2 separate regions of the Homo sapiens genome follow, and region 1 is linked to region 2. The links come from fine-mapping of genetic effects on gene expression. Tissue or cell type: whole blood. Region 2 holds a variant in brackets; the other region holds the start of a gene. All regions are shown on one strand. Distances are from middle to middle.

Region 1 (8,103 bases), 140 kb before region 2:
CACAGGGAACAGCCAGTGCTAAGGCCTTGAAGTGGGAGCATGAAGGTGAGTTTGAGGAACAGCCAGGAGGAGCCCAGTGTGCTGCAGTGTCCTTTGATAATGCTCAGCACTCTGTGCATTCACTGAAGGCCACTAGGGACAAAGTGTCCTACACAATGTCATTTCCCTTCACCCAACTACTATCATGCCCATTTGACAAGCCAGAGATACTGAGGCTCAGAAAGTGGGAGCCTGTTGCTGGTGGCAAGAGGGGACCTTTGGAGGTTGCACAGCAGTGCCGTGATGGAAACTCGGGCATGGGAAACACCAGCAGTAGCCATTGCCCAGCTGGGGGCCAGGCCAGGCCAGGTCCCCGGGCCTCCTCCTCGCCTGTGGCCCAGGCCTGCAGAAGCACATTTTACAAATGCAGACAGCAAGGCCTCCACTCTGGCTGGGTGACCCTGGGCAAGATCTTTGCTCTCAAACCTCAGTGTCTGCATCTGTAAAAGGGGTGTGAAGCTCTGTTGTTTACAGGACTGGTCTTTGTGGCCACTCCTCTTCACAACCCTCGAGGGACACGGGACTCTCACACCCAATCATAGATTATAATCACATTCTTTTTTTTTTTGAGACGAAGTCTCACTCTTGTCACCAGGCTGGAGTGCAATGGTGCAATCTCGGCTCACTGCAACCTCCGCCTCCCAGGTTCAAGCAATTATCCCTGCGTCAGCCTCCCAAGTAGCTGGGATTACAGGCACCCACCAGCACGCCCAGTTAATTTTTGTATTTTTAGTAGAGACAGGGTTTCACCATGTTGACAAGGCTGGTCTCAAACTCCCGACCTCAGGTGATCCATCTGCTGCAGCCTCCCAAAGTGCTGGGATTACCGGCATGAGCCACCGAGCCTGCACTATATTCAACATTCTTTATCAGTCGTTGCTATGTGGAGGTACCTCCCCCACTCCTAAGCCCTCAATGTGAGTTTTCTCATCAAATTCCCCCTCAACCCAATGGGGTCAGTCCTGTCACTGTCCCCATTTTCCAGATGAGGAAACTGAGGCCCAGAGAATCTATGTGACTGCACAGCTAGGAGATACAGAACAGAGAACTCTTTTTTTTTTTTTTGGAGACGGAGTCTCGCTCTGTTGTTGCCAGGCTGGAGCACAGTCGCGTGATCTCAGCTCACTGCAACCTCCCCTTCCTGGGTTTAAGCGATTCTCCTGCCTCAGCCTCCCGAGTAGCTGGGACTACTGGCACCCGCCACCACACCCGGCTAATTTTTGTATTTTTAGTAGAGATGGGGTTTCACCATATTGGCCTGGCTGGTCTTGAACTCCTGACTTTGTGATCCACCGCCTCAGTCTCCCAAAGTGCTGGGATTACAGGCCTAAGCCACCGCGCCTGGCCCACTTTTTGAATTTTTATGAGTATATAGTAGGTGTATATATTTATGGAGTATGTGAGGTATTTTGATACAGGCATGCAATGTGTAATTATCACATCAGGGTAAATGAGGTATCCATCACCTCAAGCACTTATCATGTATTTGTGTTTGTACTAGTTAACTTTTGTTGTTATTTAAATTATTATTAATACGAATTGCTAATATGAATATTAATAGCATTGATCATTGTTAATTTATTGCTGTTGACTCGTGTTGTAATCGTTATCTTTTTAATTTTTTTTTTTTTTTTTTGAGACGGATTTTCACTCTTGTTGCCCAGGCTGGAGTGCAATGGTACGATCTCGGCTCACCGCAACCTCCACCTCCCGGGTTCAAACAATTCTCCTGCCTCAGCCTCCTGAGTAGCTGGGATTACAGGCATGCGGCACCACACCTGGCTAATTTTGTATTTTTAGTAGAGACGGGGTTTCTCCATGTTGGTCAGGCTGGTCTCGAACTCCCGACCTTGGGTGATCCGCCTGCCTCGGCCTCCCAAAGTGCTGGGATTACAGGCATGAGCCACCGCGCGTGGCCTGTAATTGTTATTAATCCTGTGAGTCTCCGGCTTTCTGGAACTTGGCCAGCAGGAGGTGTTGGTGTTTTTCACAGCAAGAAGGAAGGGCGGTTGGACCTGCTCCCCTAAGACGGCCTGGCTTGTTTCCGGGAGCTACGGATCAGTCATGGGAATTTGAATAACCCTTTCTCTCCTTAGGTCCCAGTGACCTGCCGAGTGGGAAGAGCCGTGGCTGGCCGGCCTCCCAGTGGCGACGACGACCTCGCTGTGTTCGTGGCAGCGGCACTCTCAAATCTGGGCACGGTGATGGGAAGGTTATTTGTTGGAATCCCTTTGCCTTTCCAAGGGAAAATAAACACAAAAAGTGAGAAGTCTTGGGGTCTCAGCGAGCGCCAAAACAAAAAACTGGACTCTGGCGGGGATGTGGGCAAGAAGCGACTAAGCGAGGAAGGAAACCAGTTTGGGCCTCCGAGAAATCTGGCAGGCGAGAAGGTTTGAACCGTGATTAAAAAGGGGAAGAACCACAAGTCCCAATTTAAGTCAGCAGAGCTGCTGTCTGGGCAGTGAGAGGGAAAGTGCTTGTGGCTGGCAGATTTCAGCAGCCATTTGGCATTGGCTGGGTACCGGGCTGCTCTGTGGGTGCTGCCTGGCAGCTGCATGGCTACAGACAAGTAACTGTTCTCTCTTGGCCGCAGTGTCCCCAGGTATAAGAAAGTGATCAAATAATATGGGATGATCCATTCAGACTTTTTTTTTTTTTTTTTTTAGAGACAGAGCCTACCTCTGTCTCCCAGGCTCGAGTGCAGTGATGCAATCTTGGCTCACTGCAGTGTCCACCTCCCAGGTTCAAGCGATTCTTCTGCCTCTGCCTCCCCAGTAGCTGGGACTACAGGTGCGTGCAACCATGCCTGGCTAATTTTTGTATTTTTAGTAGAGACAGGGTTTCACCCTGTTGACCAGGCTGGTCTCAAACTCCTGACCTCAGGTGATCCGCTGGCCTCAGCCTCCCAAAGTGCTGAGATTGCAGGTGTGAGCCACTACACCCGGCCTCGTTTAGACTTCATTGACATTCCCCCACCCCACCCCTCTTCCCACATCCTCAGATGCCGTGTGAACAGCTTGAATCCCACACTCCACAGGTCCTTCTCCTCACAACCCTCCATGGCACCCTACTGCCTTCAAAATAATTCCCAAAGTCCCCACCAAGACCTTCAAGACACCATGTGATGGGCCCACCTTTGAAACATCATCTCTTACCAGTATAGGTGTCACCACTGCCTTTATGACTTTATTCCAAAGCACCACATGTATTCCCACCTCAGCACCTTTGCACATGCTGTTCCTTTGGCCTGGAATGCTCTTCCCTCAGACGTTATAGCACCTGGATCCTTCTTGTCATGGAGGGTTCTAAGCTCACATGTTAGTTCCGCAGAGGTGTCCTTCCTGAGCCCTGGATCTAAGACATCCCCTTCCAGCTCTCCATCCCGTAACTGTTTTGTCATTGTCATAGCTGATCCCACTTGCTTATTCGTGCCTTATGTCCCCCCACTAGAATATCAGCTCCACGCAGGCAGGGATATCTGTGTTGTTCACTGCTGTGTTCCCAGCGCCTAGAACAGTGCCTGGAAATGTGCGGAAAGCAGATTTTTGTGGCCTTTTTCTTCAAGGTCATTGGACACCAGGAATCCTGTAGCAGACCGCTCCCTTCCCCCATCTACTCGGAGTCTGGAAATCCCCACCTTCTGGGGAACCCCTTCCTGTAGTTCTAAGGTCAGGACTGGGGCCGATTTGTTTAACACAGAGAGCTTCCTGGAGCCAAGCCTCGAGCTAACTGCTTTAATGCATTAACTCACTTAATTCTCACTGCCAGGAGAGTGGGTACACATTATTTCCATTTCATAGGCAAGGAAGTGGAGAGGTACGGAGAAGTCAAGTCATTTGCCCGGGTAGGAAGAGGGGGAGGCAGTGGAATGGAGACACTTGCTGCCTGGGAAGACTCGAGGTGGCCCCTCCAAGCTGGGGGCGTGGGCGACTTGTTTCCTGTTGGGGGAGGGGGAGAAGAGTACATTCCTCCCTCCCCGCCCTCCCACATGTTGGGGGAGAGGCTGGCTGAGAGCATGTCCCACTCCGGACTAGGGGGAACCCCACTGTCCGTCTCAGCTCCCCATGAGGCCGTGGAGAAAATGTAAGTAGCCCGGGGGCGGGCAGGGGGGTGGGCGCAGAGGCCACGGAAGCCAGCGGTCGGAGAGGGCTTCCTGGAGAAAGATGCACCCCTCCTAGAATTGGGGGACAGGACGGGCGGCCGGAGCGAGGCTGGGCTATACGGGCACCGGCTGTAGCAAAGGCAAAGCTGAGGGCTGGGGCCAGAACCCAAATCGGGGGCCTGGGGCCGTGGCGGGTCGGGTCAGCATGATCGCAGATAGTCAGGGTCGGGCAGGGCTGGGCTCCCTCCCTGGGGCGATGATGAAAGCCGTGGTCGCTATTGCACCGCCCAGCCCTGCGGGCACTGATAAGGCCCTGCAGGAGGGAGTCAGCAAGGGCGCGCCCCCTGGAGGCCAGGCCCCTCGACCCTGCCCGCCCTAGGCCCCGCCCCTTCATCTGGCCCCGCCTCCAGGCGCTGAGGCACCTGGTGACCTGCCGGCGTTGAGTGGGTGGGGCTAAAGTCGCCCCGCCCCTCCGATCCTCACTTCTATCTTCAGACTGTGGGACGCGAAATCGGGTGGGCACGTGGTGGGCGTGGCTTCGCAAGGCCTCGCCTTTTTCCGGACCCGCGCCAGGAGAGCCCTCCGACCCTGGCAGCCGCGGACTAGCGGGATTGGTAGGCGGGGCCAGTCCGGGCTCCGCCCTCATGGCCCGCCCCTCCAGCCGAATCTCCGACTCGCGCGCGGCCTGAGGCGTGGCTCCTGGTGGCCCCGCCCCTGCCCCGCCCCTGTCGCGGCCGGCCTCCCCCGCCGGGCTCCGCTCGCACGGCCGGTTCCTCTTTACATAACGGCGCGGGGCGGCATGGGCCCGGGCCACCGCCTCCGCCCGGCTGCCCGCCCGGACTGTCGCGGCCCGCGGTGGCGACGGCGGCCGCTGCAAAGTTTCCCCGGCGGCGGCGGCCCGGGGGCGCATCCTCCCGCAACTGTCAAGCGCTGGCGGCGGAAATGATGAGGCGCTGGCCATTTTCCGAGCCCGGGTTTCCTGCCTGAGCCCCGCTCGAGCGAGCCGCGAGCGAGGAGCCGGCGGGCGGGAGAGGACGCGCCCAGGGCGGGGGCCCGCCCGCCCCCTCGGGATTTCGAGGGCCCGGGGGCGCGCGACGCCATGGGCCGGCCGGGCCCAGAGCTCCTGTCTCTCAGGTGAGCCCGCGTTTGCCCGCGCTCCCCTCCTCCGGGGCCGGGAGGGCTTTTGTGGGGAAAGAGGAGGCCCCGTGTCCAGTTCTGCCCGGGCTCTGCGCGTCACCCCCAGCCCAAAATACTGCCCTGCAGCCAACTCGGATGGAGGCGTTCCGGGGTGACGGCTCCCAGCGCCTACGACCCCCCACTCAGCCACTACCCCCACCCACACACGTGTTAGGGAGAGCGTTGGGGTAACTGAGGCCGTGGGATGGGGGAGAGGGCATCGCTGACGCCCCCAGCCCACCCTACGGTAGCCTCGCCGGTTGGGGGCGGCCCTCCCCTCAACTTGTGCCTGGGGAGGAGCGGTCAGGGGTCACCCATTGCTACCCTGAAAGTGAAAGTAGTCAAACTGAGGCTGTGAGCACAGATGAGCCCTTGGGTGTGGGGGCAGCGGGGGAGGATGCGCCGGCCCCTCCCCACTCCCCATTCCGGGCCATGTGGCTAAGAGGGTAGCGCCCTGATTCAGGAAGCCCCTCTCCCCAGTTCCTGCACTGCCGAGGTCGACCGGGCCAGGCCCCCGCATGCTGCTGAATTGGGCGGTTCACCAGGGCTAGGCGTCCCAGAGACAGGTTTCTGGTATTGATCCTCTCACACCTCTTGCCTGGGGTTCCCTGGGAATCCCCCGACCAAAAAACGTCTGGAGTGGGTGTTGGTCTTCTAGATCCGCACGGTAGGGATGGTATTTCAGAGGTCTCTGATGCCTGGTGCAGAAATCCCCTTCCCTCCCTTCCCTCCCTCCGGCCAGGGGAGCTTTGTTTTGAGGGAGGGGGACTGCATTTGAGGAACTGGAGAGGAGGGTCTGCCTGCCTGTCCCGCTTCTTTTTTTCTTTAGTTTCCTCATTCTCCTGTTTCTCTTCCCCATTCCCAGCCACAATGATGTAGGTGAGGAGGTCACTGCCTGCAGCTGGGGGCCTCCAGGGAGGGGCACGGCCAGGCTGGGCTGAGTGGGAGGAAGTGAAATCTGGTGGGGGGTTCAGAGCAGAGGCCCCGGCAAGGCAATGTCGGCAAGGCCAGCTTTGGTGGCAGGAGGGACCGAGATCTGACCCGCAGCCCCTCGCCGGGGAGATGACAGTTCCCTAACACCGGCTAGCAGCCAGGCCTCAGGGCCCCTGCCAGGGCAGTGGGCCTGTGGGTCTCCAGGGATGCAGGCGCAGGTTGTGTCTGGGTTTCCCATCACTGACCTGGCTGCCTGAGTGGAAACAGCTCTGGAGGCTCCTCGGGACCTGCCCTCGTGGAGGGAGAGCCGTCAGAGGCCACCTGGGCAGGCTGGGCTCGGAGGATGAGAGCCAGGGCCTACTGGGGGAAGTTGGAAGGGTTTTTAGTGCACTTTTCCTGAGCCTTTTCCCACTACCCCCTCTGGGAGGGAAAATCCTTCTGAGCCAAAGGGTGAGCATTCCTAGAACTTTTGTGAGTCCCTGTGGGCCACAGAGCGGCCAGCTGGGAAGGGGCTGGCTCAGAGCATCAGCAGCTGGGGGCTCAGGGTCTGCAGGGGCTCAGCAGGAAGTGGAGGAGGATAGTGAGGAGGGTCCTGGAGACTGTGCTTTGCTACTCCTATTGCCTTCGTTCAGCTGAAGGCGTGGGCAAGTGACTCTGCCCTCAGTTTCCCTCTGTGTAAAATGGGGGAGTAACAGGTTTGCAGTGGAGATTTAATGAGCCAGTGTGTAATGAGCACCTGCTGCCTGGCAAAGAGAGGTTCAGTTGCAGGTGGTGGTGGTGGTAGTGGTGATTTTATCATTGCCTTCATTAGTGTTACTGTTATTGGCTATGAGGTGTTCCTTCAGTAGTCTCCCTTGAGCATCTCTTGCATACATAGCACTGGAATTTCCTGGGTCTTTGGGAGCAGAATTTTGAAGATCTGGGCACTTCCTTAGCTATAAGGCCTTGCTTAACTGCCCCACCTCAGTTTCCTCATCTGTGAAATGGGTGTGCTAATAGTACCTACTTCCTAGAGTCATGGGAACCATGAATGAGTGAATTCACAGTGTCCAGAGTGGCTTGGTCAGGAGGAAGAGAAGAAGTAGCCTTGGGGCCGGAATGATCTTTTTTGTTGTGGGTGTTAGCTCTGCTGGCTTTCTTTCCTCATCCCCCCACCCCCACCCCCATGCCTCTCAAACCTGGGCCTGATCCTCCTTCTCCGATAAATAGAACTTTTGAGTACAAATCAGATCCCACAGGACTGCTGGGCCCTTGGATTTCTGGCTCCCGCTGTGCCACCCCCAGACATTCTCCATATCCCAGGTGGAGCAGAGCTGGAGGCACTTGGAGGGACCTCCTCGCTGCCAGTCTCAGTGCCACCTGTCTGTGGTGAGGGGAGACCGGGTGCCCTCCCCAGCCAAGGTGGGGAGGGTCAGTGAAGGGGGTCTCAGGGACATAGTAGGGAGCTGTCCCACAGTCTGGGCCAATACAGCTCCTTTTGCTGGAAACACCTTTGGGACCCAGTTTACATGACCCCACACCCTTCTGAGGGCTGGTGTTCATGAGGGTCTCCCATTGCTGGGGATCCTTGGGTTGATCACTTAAGCTCTCTGAGGCAATTGAGACAACATCTGTGAAAGGCTTTAACAGCTGTGCACTTGCTGTGACATGGCACATAAGGCACTGAGCGCTGAGCCTGGCACTCAATTAACAATAGTAGATATTATTGCTATTAATAAAACAAGAGGCTTTTCCTGCTAAATTCCCACTTCTCCCTGGTAGCAGTATGGACTTTGGGGCCAAATCTGGGCTCTGCCAGCTTCCAGGTGTGAGGTCCTAGGCAGGTTACCTGGCTTCTCTGATCTGGACCTCGC
Region 2 (8,103 bases):
TAAAAGTCACTGTTCGCAGCAGGATTATGTATAAATCAAAAGGTGGAAACAATGAAAATGTCCACCAACTGATGAATAAACAAAATGTAGTGTACCTGTGTAACTGTATAATGGAATATTTGGCCATGAAAAAGAAAGAAGTACTAATACATGCTACAGCATGGAAGAAACATACTAAGTGAAACAAGCCTATCATAATATATATGGCCAGATGCGGTGGCTCATGGCTGCAATCCCAGCACTTTGGGAGTCCGAGGTGGGCAGATCACTTGAGGTCAGGAATTCGAGACCAGCCTGGCCAACATGGTGCAACCCCGTCTTTACTAAAAATATAAAATTAGTAGGTGTGGTGGCAGGCGCCTATAGTCCCAGCTACTCAAGAGGCTGAGGCAGGAGAATCGCTTCAACCTGGGAGGCAGAGGATGCAGTGAGCTGCAATCATGCCACTGCGCTCCAGCCTGGGCGACACAGTGAGACTCTGTTTCAAAAAAAAAAAAGAAAAAAAAAGGCTATATATTATATGATTCCATTAATACGCAATGTCCAGAATGGGCAAACCTATGAAGACAATAAATCAATAGTTGCCTGGAGCTGGGGAAAATTGAAACAAACAGAGAGGAACTGCTAAGGGGTTCAGAGTTTCTTTTCAGGGTGATGAAAATGTAAATTGATTGTAGTGATGGTTGCACAATGCTGTGAATATATTTTAAAAAATGGGCTGGGAGCAGAGGTTCATGCCTGTAATCCCAGCACTTTGGGAGGCTGGGGCAGGAGGATCATTTGAGGCCCAGAGTTTGAGACCAGCCTGGGCAACATAATGAGACCTCATCAAACAAAAAATAACAACAAAAATTAGCCAGGAGTGGTGATACACATCTGCAGTCCCAGCTTAATCAGGAGGCTAAGGTGAATCACCTGAACCCATGAGTTTGAGGTTATGGTGAGCTACGATGGCGCCACTGCACTCCAGCCTGGACAACAAAATGAGACCCTGTCTCAAAATAGAAGAAAAAAAAAAACCTAATTTTCTCCCTATCTCAAATGAATGATTAAATTTTCTAGCACTACGATAAAGTGAGATAAAATAGAAAAAAAATCCCTAAGAGAAAAATATATCCTATTTAAGTAATAAAAAGCAGTATTTATTTTCCTTACTAATACATTCTGTTTGTGAGAGGTACAAATTGGATTCTTCAGTTAAAATTCAAGGGAAAACATTTATAAGATAAAATACATCATCTTAGTTTGACTAAGCCCATTAAATAAGATAAAAGGCACTGCAATTAGTAACCTTTTTTTTTTTGAAACCAGGGTCTCACTTGGCTCACTGCAGCCTCAATCTCCCTGCGCTCAGATGATCCTCTCACCTCTGCCACCCGAATAGCTGGGACTACAGGTACATACCACCGTGTCTGGCTACTTTTTGTATTTTTTTTGTAGAAACGGGGTTCCACCATATTGCCCAGGCTGGTCTTGAACTACTGGGCTCAAGCAATTCATCTGCCTTGGCCTCCCAAAGTGCTGAGATTACAGGAATGAGCCACTGTACCCAGCCAGTAATTTTATGTTTTTAAAGCAATTTTCTTAAGCTCTAAATTAGCTAACTTAAAATTTGAACTGAAAATTGTTTAGAAATGGTATCAGTTAAAATGGTGCTGTATTTTACTTCAAAATCAACTAAAAAATAATAAAAAACTCAAACTTACTAATCAGATTCCTCTGAAAGCTGAGTGAAGATCAATAGCCCATGCTCTACAGAATCAAATATACATCAAATTCTACAGCAAAGCCTGAGTGGTGCAAAACTAACAAGAACAAGAAAAAATATGGAAATTCACTTCATGAGGTTTGCTGTATTTAAAAAAACAAGGTGACAGATTCCACGTACGTAATACTAGATTGCTGATTCCCACACTATCTCCTAAAAAGATCAAAAGAAGTTTTAGAAAAGATTCCAATACAAAGATACTGTTTATGGGTGAACATTCTGTTTTCATTTTCTCCATTAGGCTTCTGGATCAGGATCTATTTTAAGTGGGGAGGAGGAGGAAAAGCTAGCTACCTGAAAGAAATTTGTGCCATCTCAAAATATGAAATTAGCCTAGGCCTGGTGTGATAGCTTAAGCCTGTAATCCGAGCACTTTGGGAGGCTGAGGCAAAGAGGATTGCTTGGGCTCAGGAGTTCAAGACAGCCTGGGCAACATAGTGGGACCTCGTCTCTACTTAAAAAAGAAAAATTCTAAAAAGAGAGTGAAAGAGACAGAGAGAAAGAGAGAAATAAGGAGAAATCAGTCCAATCATCGTTTGAGCACTTCTTTATAAAAGGTACTATTTTCAGCTCAGAAGTTAAAGAGAAAGAAAAAAAGAAGGCCGGGTGCGATGGCTCATGCCTGTAATCCCAGCACTTTGGGAGGCCGAGGCGGATGGATCACGAGGTCAGGAGATTGAGACCACCTTGGCTAACACGGTGAAACCCCGTCTCTACTAAAAATACAAAAAATTAGCCGGGCGCTGTGGCGGGTACCTCTAGTCCCAGCTACCCGGGAGGCTGAGGCAGGAGAAAATGGCATGAACCCGGGAGGCGGAGCTTGCAGTGAGCCGAGATCGCGCTACTGCACTCCAGCCTGGGCAACAGAGCAAGACTCTGTCTCAAAAATAAAAAATAAAAATAAAAAAAGAAAAAAGAAGAAAATGATTCTGTAGAAGAACTAAGACAAAAAAAGTAAATTCAGAAATGTTCAAGAATCAAAAAACAGAATTTAGGAATTGAAATGCCAATACTATTAGTGAAGAATAGTAGTCATTTTATAACAACTTATTCTCAAACCTATGGCAAAAGTGTTCAGAATTAGGTTAAGGAAAAGTCAGTAAAATGAAATTAATTCCAATTCTTACAGCTGTACAAATATCTTTTCTGTTTCCCTGGCAAATATGTAAAACATTTTATAGATTCGGATTCTTTTCTAATAAAAAACAGAACAACTGTTCAAGTACACATGCCCACTTAATATTCTTTCCCAGGAGTATGAAATAGAAATAGAACAAAATAGAAATTAGAGATAATTTATCCACATTCCTTCTCTTGCTTTATTACTAGTTTTAATATATCTGCATGCATAAGACTCCATTGAAACCATCCAAGACAAGAGAAAAAAATAATACTAAAACTAGATAGTAAGTATATTAGCATTACACAACCCTATCAGTAAACAGTCTTACTGAAAATGTCCTGGAAACATATGCATTACTTACCTATTCTTTACCTAATAGAGAGTTTAAGAATGCTACTTGTTTTACTTAAACCATCCCACTAGCAGTGTTAAGTGTTTTGCAACTCCCTCAGTACCACTAAGTAGTAGTAATCTTTCTCACATTTACCATTCAGCGCAAGCTGATAGACAATCATATTCCACTGCTTTAAAACTGAATTTCTTTAAAAATACAATAAAATAAAAATAAACTGCATTTCTTAAATCATTACAAGTGAGGAGGGCCACCTTTTCATACATTCACTGGTCATTTTTAAAACTATTTTTCTACTTTTCCCAGTTTGTGGCATGTCTTTTTAAATGTATGGTACTTTTGGACACGTCTAAGTCTTTTTTTTTTTTTTTTTTGAGATGGAGTCACTCTGT[C/T]GCCCAAGCTGGAGTGATGTGGCACAATCTCGGCTCACTGCAACCTCCACTTCCCAAATTCAAGCAATTCTCCTGCCTTAGCCTCCTGAGTAGCTGGGATTACAGGCATGTGCTACCATGCCTGACTAATTTTTTTGTATTTTTAGTAGAGATGGGGTTTCACCAGGTTGACCAGGTTGGTCTCAAACTCCTGACCTCAAGTGATCCACCCGCTTTGGCCTCCCAAAGTGCTGGGATTACAAGCGTGAGCACCACACCCGGCCTAAATCTTTAATCTCTTTATAATCAAAGGTATCGATCTTTTACTTCATGATTTTTTTGCTCTGGTAGTCATGCTTATAAAGTCCTTCTCCACTCAAAATTAAACAAATTCACAGATTTGCTCCAGTGTAGTCTGGGTGTTGTTTTGTTTAATCACAGTTTTCTCATTAATCTATTTGGTTTTATTTATCAGTGTGAAGTAGGTATCTAATTTGTCCCCAATGTCCCAGAATCATTTACTGAATAATCCACCTTTCCTCCAGAATTAAAGTGCTATATTGCATATTAATAAAATACCCACATAAATTCAGTTTTGGATGCTCCATACGTAGCCACTGTGACAGTTATAATTCTTTTTTTTTTTTTTTTTTTTTTGAAACAGAGTTTTACTCTTGTTGCCCAGGCTGGAGTGCAATGGCGCGATCTCGGCTCACTGCAACCTCCACCTCCCGAGTTCAAGCGATTCTCCTGCCTCAGCCTCCCGAGTAGCTGGGACTACAGGTATGCGCCACCATGACCGGCTAATTTTGTATTTTTAGTAGAGACGGGGTTTCTCCATGTTGGTCAGGCTGGTCATGATCTGCCTGCCTCAGCCTCCCAAAGTGCTGGAATTATAGGCGTGAGCCACCGCACCCAGCTGACAAGTTATGTTTTAATTCTGACATATTTTGTAGGGCAAGTCCTCCTTTATGACTCTTGTGGAAAAAAATTTCCAAAGTTCTTCTGTTAATACACATAATCTAATAAGCTTTAGAATCATTTTGTCAATTTCTACAAAAACGGATATATATATATATATTATAAAAATTTTTTTTTTTTTGAGATGGAGTCACCCGGCTGGAGTGCAATCTCAGCTCACTGCAACCTCCACCTACGGGGTTCGAGTAATTCTCCTGCCTCAGCTTCCCAAGTAGCTGGTACCTGCCACCATGTCCAGATGATTTTTGTATTTTTAGTAGAGACAGGGTTTCACCATGTTGGCCAGGCTGGTCTCAAACTCCCGTCCTCAAGTGATCGGCCCACCTCAGCCTTCCAAAGTGCTGGGATTACAGGCGTGAGCCAACGTGCCCGGCCAAAACTGAATATATTATCTTTAGAGATTTATTTGAGGAAAATTGACAACGTTGTAGTATTAAATAATTCCATTCAAAGTATGGCATGTTTCCATTTAGCCAAATCTACTTTTATGTCTCCTTCAGCTGTGTCTTCATAAATCTTCAATTTATCCCCATGTCCTATGCTTATTTTTGTTTTTGAGACAGAGTCTGGCTCTGTCACCCAGGCTGGAGTGCAGCACCACCATCTCGGCTCATTGCAAACTCCGTCTCCTGGATTCAAGCGATTCTCCTGCCTCAGCCTCCCAAGTAGCTGGGATTACAGGTGCCCGTCACCTCGCCCAGCTAATTTTTGTATTTTTAGTAGAGCCATGTCGGCCAGGCTGGTCTCCAACTCCTTACCTCAGGTGATCCGCCACGCCTGGCTGGTTTGTTTTTGAGACAAGGTCTTGCTTGTCACCCAGCTGGAGTGCCGTGGCATAACCACAGCTCACTGCAGCCTTGACTTACTGGCTGCAAGTGAACCTCTCACCTCAGCCCACCAAGTAGCTGGGTTTACAGGAGTACACCACCACACCCGGCTAATTTTTGTACTTTTTGTAGAGATGGGGTTTTGCCAAGTTGCCAAGGCGAGTCTTGAACTCCTGAACTCATCCTCCCGCCTCAGCCTCCAAAAGTGTTGAAATTACAGGCATGAGCCACTGCACCTGGCCTATTTCTACACTTTGGATTCTGCTCCCATGTATCTTGAATCAACCTTACTCTTACTAGTACCACACAGTATTTTTTTATCGTTTGTCCAAATAAAATTCTATTTTATGCTAGAGGTTTTTATTTTTTTTATATTTAATAAATGAAGTTATTGTTCTGACTTTGGCAAACATGATAGGGTAGAGAATTTCTATATACTCTAAAAATTATAAAACATGTAACTTTAATAAATGGAAGATGACCATATCTTAATAAACATGTAATGCTTTTCTACTGTGTACCACGAACTATTCTGTTTAGCTTTCCATTACATAGATCCGTTCCACCTGTTTCTTTCTTTTAATCTCAATAATCTCTGTACTGCCTCCATACTGGCCTCAATAAGTGCCACTCTCCAGTTACTGCTTGGCCCCAGAATGAACACATATCTGTGTCTTAATAAACCACAGCAAAGTTGAGGCCGTAAACAGCTTTTCTAATGTCACGCCGTTCAGAAGAGATCCCTGTTTGTTACTCGTACTCTGTTACTGATACACTATCAAGACCAAAAAGACAACCATATGAGAACACAACAGCACACCAGAATAAAACAATCTGTAGAATTTTATTTCTCACTGTTCTCTAATTACACATTAACACTCCAACTTCTTCCAACTACTAAAATCTACACAATTCTTTTATTTTTTATTTTTGAGATGGAGTCTCGCTCTGTCACTCAGGCTGGAGTGCAGTGGTACGATCTCAGCTCATTGCAACCTCCACCTTCTGGGTTCAAATGATTCTCCTGTCTCAGCCTCCCGAGTAGCTGGGATTAGAGGCGCACACCAGCACACCAGGCTAATTTTTTTTGTAAAATCTAGACAATTATTTGCATCGCTGACTCCATTTGATATTCAATGTCATGCAGTACAACATTCCATTTTTCTTGAATTTATTCACGTGCTTTGCTATCTCTAACTCTAAAAATGCTTAGAATAGAGTACATGGCGTATATGAACTCCCTGAAGAAACTGTGAACACCATGAAATTACATTAGCGTGGGCACAGTGGCTTGCACCTATAATCCCATCACTTTTGAAGGCCAAGGTAGAGGATTGCTTGAACCCAGGAGGTAAAGGCCAGCCTGGGAAACATAGTGAGAACCAGTGTCTATAAAATATTTTTAAAAATTAGCCGGGCATAGCGGCGTGCACCTGTAGCCCCAGCTACTTGGGAGGCTGAGGTGGGAGAGTCGCTTGAGCCAGGAGGTCGAGGCTACAGTAAGCCATGATCACACCACTGCATTCCAGCCTGAGTGACAGAGCATGACCCTGTTTCTTTAAAAAAAAGAAAAAAAATTAATTTTTAAAAGAATTACATGTAAAATCTACATGTGTGTAAATTTTTCTAGGGTGAGGGTATACAGTTTCACTAGGTACACAGTTTCACTAGGTTCTCAAAAGGGACCCAAAATAGATTCTTGTATTTCTCCGTACTGTCCATAGCAACAAGCACAGCAAGGAACACATCCCAGAGCTCTCTAAGTATCTGCTGGATGACTATATATGTAAGACCACTTACAGCTTTTTCATTCTTTCCATAAAATAATGCTTCTACAAAAGTGTATTAAGGCACTGAATTTCATTTATTCAAACACATTTATATTGAGCCTGTACTATGTGCCAAAGCACTATACTAGACCATGAGAATAAATAATAAAGACAGTATCACTGTCTTTACTTGGAGCACAAAGAGCTCAAACTGTAACAGGGGAGACAAGCATATAATTTTAATACAACATGGTATAAGGGCAATGATACACACATGATAGGAGGGAACTTGTGTGTGGTAGCTGGCAGTGTGTGTCATGTGGCAAGAGCAGCAGGCAAAGAAACAAACACTGGGGACACACATCTAAGGGGTGTGTGAAGGAAAAGAAGCCCAGGAATGAGGCAGGGAAGGAATGATCAATAAACATAAAAAATACAGAAGAGGAAATTCTGAAGGAGGGTGAAACCAACATTCAAGTGCAGCAATAAAGACAGAAAAAGATTCCAAAGGACCTGGCAGTTAGAGGTTAATCGTAGCCTTAGGCAGGATAATGGCTAGAAGAATTCAGGATTAAAAAGAATCCTTTTGGGCCCAGTGCGGTGGCTCATGCCTGTAATCCCAGCACTTTGGGAGGCCGAGGCAGATGGATCACAAGGTCAGGAGATCGAGACCATCCTAGCTAACACGGTGAAACCCCATCTCTACTAAAAATACAAAAATTTAGCTGGGCGTGGTGGCAGGTGCCTGTAGTCCCAGCTACTCGGGAGGCTGAGGCAGGAGAATGGCGTGAACCCGGGAGGCGGAGCTTGCAGTGAGCCAAGATAGTGCCACTGCACTCCAGCCTGGGCAAGAGCGAGACTCTGTCTCAAAAACAAAAACAAAACAAAACAAAAAAGAATCCTTTTTAGGAT

The links. PIP is the estimated chance that this variant, and not a neighbour inherited with it, causes the effect.
Region 1: it holds the start of SH2B3, and the variant in region 2 is fine-mapped to the expression of SH2B3 in whole blood (INTERVAL, PIP above 0.99).

What each region holds. Positions count from the first base shown.
Region 1 is chr12:111,401,003-111,409,105 of GRCh38, forward strand. It overlaps SH2B3 (SH2B adaptor protein 3), which reads left to right and starts at 4,921. Exons shown (of 8, transcript NM_005475.3): 1 at 4,921-5,275. LINC02356 (long intergenic non-protein coding RNA 2356) reads left to right here. Exons shown (of 4, transcript NR_187522.1): 4 at 2,136-2,308. RefSeq lists an enhancer at 2,128-2,377 and silencers at 4,400-4,559, 4,680-5,259.
Region 2 is chr12:111,537,098-111,545,200 of GRCh38, forward strand. The region is part of intron 5 of ATXN2 (ataxin 2); the gene reads right to left. Among named protein-coding and RNA genes, the nearest start is that of ATXN2, 58 kb to the right of the region's middle. The variant C/T (reference allele first, on the strand shown) is at 3,636.